Linked DNA regions of Homo sapiens: region 2 is linked to region 1. Evidence: fine-mapped QTL for protein levels in blood plasma. A gene starts in region 1. The other region holds a variant in brackets. All regions are shown on one strand. Distances are between the middles of the regions. Region 1 holds the start of ADIPOQ (adiponectin, C1Q and collagen domain containing). Region 2 overlaps ADIPOQ (adiponectin, C1Q and collagen domain containing).

What was found. PIP is the posterior inclusion probability: the model's chance that the variant is causal. The UK Biobank Pharma Proteomics Project read protein levels with antibody pairs (Olink). The fine-mapping took linkage between variants from a reference panel, not from the people measured, so its PIPs are less certain.
Region 2: its variant is fine-mapped to the plasma level of the ADIPOQ protein (UK Biobank, PIP above 0.99).

The regions. Positions count from the first base shown.
Region 1 is chr3:186,841,354-186,844,264 of GRCh38, forward strand. It overlaps ADIPOQ (adiponectin, C1Q and collagen domain containing), which reads left to right and starts at 1,357. Exons shown (of 3, transcript NM_004797.4): 1 at 1,357-1,396. RefSeq lists a promoter at 681-1,379, a cis regulatory region at 781-808 and an enhancer at 1,397-2,911.
Region 2 is chr3:186,850,637-186,853,499 of GRCh38, forward strand. ADIPOQ (adiponectin, C1Q and collagen domain containing) reads left to right here. Exons shown (of 3, transcript NM_004797.4): 2 at 2,415-2,636. The coding sequence starts at 2,423. It overlaps ADIPOQ-AS1 (ADIPOQ antisense RNA 1), which reads right to left. Exons shown (of 4, transcript NR_046662.2): 4 at 1,250-2,606. Among named protein-coding and RNA genes, the nearest start is that of ADIPOQ-AS1, 9.3 kb to the right of the region's middle. RefSeq lists an enhancer at 1-2,414. The variant T/C (reference allele first, on the strand shown) is at 2,391.

The DNA.
Region 1 (2,911 bases):
AAGCCGGGGGACCTTGGAAAGTCTCTCATGTCTCTCATCTCAACGGCCTAATGTGACTTCTCTTGAAATATTTGGACATTAGCAGGAAGCTGAGGCTTTACATCAGATCTTTACTTTAATGGTGGACTTGACTTTACTGGTAGATTTTTAGGCTCTGTGTGGACTGTGGAGATGATATCTGGGGGGCAGGCAGACACTTGCCCTGCCTCTGTCTGAGAAAATTCTGTTTTGGATGTCTTGTTGAAGTTGGTGCTGGCATCCTAAGCCCTTGCTGGGGTCGTAATTTAATTCATCAGAATGTGTGGCTTGCAAGAACCGGCTCAGATCCTGCCCTTCAAAAACAAAACATGAGCGTGCCAAGAAAGTCCAAGGTGTTGAATGTTGCCACTTCAAGCCTAAACTTTCTAGGAACACCTAAGTGGGTGGCAGCTTCCAGTTCTCCAGGCTGCTTCTAGGCCAGAGCTGGGTTCCACAAGAGACAGAATAGGCATATATATGCTTAAGGAACTGGAAAAACAGGCTCTCTCTCTCTCACAAACACACACACACACATACCAAGGTAGCTGTCAAAATGTTATCCGAAATTTTGGAACCAAAAAATCTTGAAAGATGGTATTCCAATATCACATTTTATGTAAGTTTTCTATTATATTAGATTCAAATTACGATTCGAGGCCACAAGCTTTAAGAATTCAGGGCCTTTTTAACTTGCCAAGCCCCACACCACTCCAGGAACTTCCCCACACCCCAGTTCTCAGAATTCATGTGCAAGGTCTTTCCTAAATCCAGGGTCCAGGTCAGAGAGTGGAGGATGTGCTCTATTTCTTACCTGATTGCAGACCCCTCTGACAGTGCTCCCTTCTGAAGCACTCACTGTCTGAACGTACACAGTCTCAGACTTAATCATGCACAGTGAGCAAGACTGTGGTGTGATAATTGGCGTCCCTGACTTATTAGGGCAAATCTATGGGAGGGGGAGACCTCCTGGACCACTGAGCAATTAATTCATTTACATTAGGAAGTTTCTCCGTCAGATGCAGGAAAAAAATCTTGTTTTCCTGCTGTGGTTTTGACTTTTGCCCCATCTTCTGTTGCTGTTGTAGGAGGCAAAATAAGGGTCAAGGCCTGGAAACACAAGTGCTTTGACTGAAGCTCCACTTGGCTTCCGAAGCCCAAGCTGGGTTGTACCAGGTTCCCTAGGGTGCAGGCTGTGGGCAACTGCCAGGGACATGTGCCTGCCCACCGGCCTCTGGCCCTCACTGAGTTGGCCAATGGGAAATGACAATTGTGAGGTGGGGACTGCCTGCCCCCGTGAGTACCAGGCTGTTGAGGCTGGGCCATCTCCTCCTCACTTCCATTCTGACTGCAGTCTGTGGTTCTGATTCCATACCAGAGGGTAAGAGCAATTCTGTGAAGTTCCAGGCTGGGTGGGGGATGCATGCATAGCCTCTGGCTGGGATCACCCAGGCTCTCCCGTCCGTAGTAGTGTGGGAGTGGATACAGGTGGATACTCTGGTCAGAGCAGCACTGGTGGAGGCAGATATGCACTGGGCTTCTTCCTCCGTTCTCCCACAGCCCCAAGAGAGAAAGGGTTATTTCAGACATTCCTTCTAAGATGCATGGAACCATTCTGAATTTTGCCCAGTTCGCTCTGTAGCAGGATACCTATTGAGAAAAAGTTAGGGTCAGTAAGGTGGAAGGGTCTGTCCACAGATGAAGTCCAATTCGATTAAGGGGGATAAGGGAATACATTGCCTCTTAGCTTGACCAGGTAGGGCAAAGGAAGAAGCATATATGAAGGCAGCTTCAGAAAAGTCAAGCTGAGCACTGACTTCAGACTGGAATTAGGAATCCAGCTCTGCCACTTTATTCTACTCAGCAAATATTTACTGAGCAAATTCTATGGGCTAGACAGTGGATTGGGTTCACAAGATACAATGAGTGTGACATGGTTGTTGTCTATGGATTTGGGGATATATGTAGGTATAGGGATATCTTACAAGGTAATCAAGAGGTTCTAATGAGGCCAGCCATGGTGGCTCACACCTGTAATCCCAGCAATTTGGGAGACCGAGGCGGGTGGATCACCTGAGGTCAGGAGTTCCAGACTAGCCTGACCAACATGGTGAAACCCCGCCTCTACCAAAAATACAAAAATTAGTTGGGCGTGATGGCAGGTGCCTGTAATCCCAGCTTCTCGGGAGGCTGAGGCAGGAGAATTGTCTGAACCTGGGAGGCAGAGGTTGCAGTGAGCCGAGATTGTTGCCACTGCATTCCAGCCTGGGTGACAGAGCGAGACTTTGTGTCAAAAAAAAAAAAAAAAGAAAGAAAAGAAAAAGAGGCTCTAATGAGATAAAATGAGAAAAGCCTGGCATATAGTGGCAACTTATGAAAAATTGTAATTAAAAAAAAACATTTTCTGACAGAAGAAACTGGATCTACCTGGTTTTTCTGAAGCCTAATCCTGCTCGCCCCAGTGAGTGCTGTTTCTGAGGCATCCTGGTTGTTTTGAGCTGTGGATGCTGAAGGTTAGAGTGGGAGGGATTTTAGAGGTTAGGTCTGCCCCTCTTGTGTTAGAGGACATGGATCCCTGGTCTGGAGAGGTTCTGGTTTTTGGATCAAGCCTCACAAGGGGTGGCACCAACTCACTCCTAGGAACTCCGCTAGAAGGAAGGCCAGCTCTGCCTAATTCGGTTGGGGAGATGGGGGTCCCTTTATGCTAGCAGAATATGTCCGAAGGAGCATGATGGTGTCAGCTTTGTTCATGAAGGCCAGTGGTACACAGGGAGCCCGGCAGCTTCCTCAGCAGTCCCTGCTGCCACTCTTCCTTAAGTCTTGAGGAGTCTTTTTTTGGCACAATCTCAGCTCACTGCAACCTCCGCCTCCCAGGTTCAAGCGATTCTCCTGCCTC
Region 2 (2,863 bases), 9.3 kb after region 1:
AAAATATGCTAAAAGTTTGATGAAATATAAATGGTCAAATATATATTGATTATATCCACTTACTAGACTAGCACTCACTCTGAGACGTTAAAAATAGTCATTATAAAAACTAGAAAATGCCAAAGACAAAATAAAGGAATAAAGTTTTACATAAAGTATGATTCCACTATGTTTAAAAATAAACAGAGACATTCTTGGAGTTGAGTATTGTTTTCTTTTCTGTCATGTCCAAAGAACTATATAACTATTATTTTTAATGAACTATATATGTAATATATACATATAGTTTATATGTATATACAAAATTTATCTCATATATATGATAAAGATGAAAGATGAGTTGGATGTGCCACGTGAAGAGGGTAGTATAGAACCCCAGGTAATGGGGCATAGGAGTGGGATTCCAGATACCAGGCCCATGTTTTTGGGGTGAGATTGCCAATCACGGTCTTTCTTCCATCCCTCACAGAGGAGTAGGTTTGTCTTCAACAAACCTTCAGTTGTCCTGAAGACAAACCTAATTCTGGAGACTTCATATAATCTAGAAGAGACAAGCAAACTGATGAAAAATAGTGAATTTTTAAGGTAAAATAAAGTACATGGACTACACTTTGTTTAGAATCAGATTCTTGGGATTAACCACATTAACCCACAGAGGGTCTTAGTGATGCCTCTAATCCAGGATCCTAGGACCTATTTCTCTCTGTGAGATGCTTTCTCCCAACTCCTTGGTGAGAGTGGGAAGACTAAGACCTCAGCAATCTGAGGTGGAGGCCTAAGATCCCCCTAAGATCGGAGGCAGAATCTGAGAGGGGATAAAAGTCCCTATACCTGTATTGGGCCCTTTTCTGGGAGGGGGATATCAAAGAATGATTTTGAGACAGGGAGGCTTTTGACTACCTGTGCCACTTGAGCTCTTTGCTAGGGCTCCAGAATACATATTTCAAATACATTCCCCCTCCCTCCTTCCTTCCCTCTTCCACTCTTCCTTTTTATCTTCCTTTCTTCTTTTCCTTCCTCCTTCCCTTCCTTTCTCTGGCTCTCTCATGATTTCTTTTCCTCATTATAAAAGTGCTTATTTAGTCCCTACTCTGCTATTAGTGTGTTAGTCTTTGTCCCCTGGTACTTGCTGTTTAATGGAGAAATGGGTGAGCAAAACAGAAATTACAGCAGAGTGCAATGATAGAGCTAAGCCAGGTGTATAAATCCATTCTCACACTGCTGTAAAAAACTACTTGAGACTGGGTAATTTATAAAGAAAAGAGGTTTAATTGACTCACAGTTCCACAGGCTGTACAGGAAGCATGGCTGGGGAGGCCTCAGAAAACTTACAATCATGGTGGAAGAAAGAGCGAAGGGGAAGCAAGCACATCACACAGCAGCAGGAGAGAGAGAGAGAAAGAGAGAGAGAGAGAATATAGGGGAAGTGCTACACACTTTCAACCAGATCTTGTGAGAATTCACCTACTATCATGAGAACAGCAAGGGATAAGTCTGCCTCCATGATTCAGTCACCTCCTACCAGGCCCCTTCTCCAACACATGTCGACGTGCTATTTGGGTGGGGACACAGACCCAAACCATATTACCAGGGCACTGGAGAAACACAGAGGGGAAAGAACCAGCCAAGGAGTGAGATGGAGAACAAGGAGGACTTCTTGAAACAGATGACATCCAAACTGGGTCCTGAAAGCTGAATAGAGATTAGACAGGGGAGGAGGGGCAGCTAAAGATGGCTCAGGCAAACAAAGGGCCAGGGGATATGTTCATGGGATGATGTGTCTCTCGTTGTCTGCTTAACACAAGGTGAGTCTCTCCCTCCCTCTCTCTCTCTTTTTCTCTGTGTGTGTTTGTGTGTGTGCATGTGTGCAAATGTAATATACCCAATAGTCAAACATGTGCCCCAGGAGAGGGGTAGAGGAAGAAAGAGAATGAGAGAGTAAGAAGGAGGAATAGACACAGAAAATGAGAGAGAAGGGGGGAAAGAAAAAGAAGAAAGGAGCCAGAGGAGAGAAGCTGGTTAGCATTGAATGGAGCAATCTGTGTCATCGTACTTGGGAAACCCAAGGATGGATTCTTGGCAAGTCGACTCTTGGAGCTTTCCCTGTGCTTGGTCCTGTGCTCAGACATGGGAAAATTAGAGGAGTGTCATCTGTGCAATCACTGAATTCATAATCTTGGTGAGGAAAGGAGACTACACACAGGGAATAATGCTAAGTATTACAGATTTCAGGGCAGAAAGAGATCAAGGTGGGCTGCAATATTCAGAAAAGTCTTCCTGGAAAAGTTGAATACTTAGAAAGCAGCTCCTAGAAGTAGACTCTGCTGAGATGGACGGAGTCCTTTGTAGGTCCCAACTGGGTGTGTGTGTGGGGTCTGTCTCTCCATGGC[T/C]GACAGTGCACATGTGGATTCCAGGGCTCAGGATGCTGTTGCTGGGAGCTGTTCTACTGCTATTAGCTCTGCCCGGTCATGACCAGGAAACCACGACTCAAGGGCCCGGAGTCCTGCTTCCCCTGCCCAAGGGGGCCTGCACAGGTTGGATGGCGGGCATCCCAGGGCATCCGGGCCATAATGGGGCCCCAGGCCGTGATGGCAGAGATGGCACCCCTGGTGAGAAGGGTGAGAAAGGAGATCCAGGTAAGAATGTTTCTGGCCTCTTTCATCACAGACCTCCTACACTGATATAAACTATATGAAGGCATTCATTATTAACTAAGGCCTAGACACAGGGAGAAAGCAAAGCTTTTTTATGTTAACCATAAGCAACCTGAAGTGATTTGGGGTTGGTCTTCCAAGGATGAGTGTAGATGGTGCCTCTATAACCAAGACTTTGGCTTTGCTGCATCTGCAGCTCCTTTTCCATC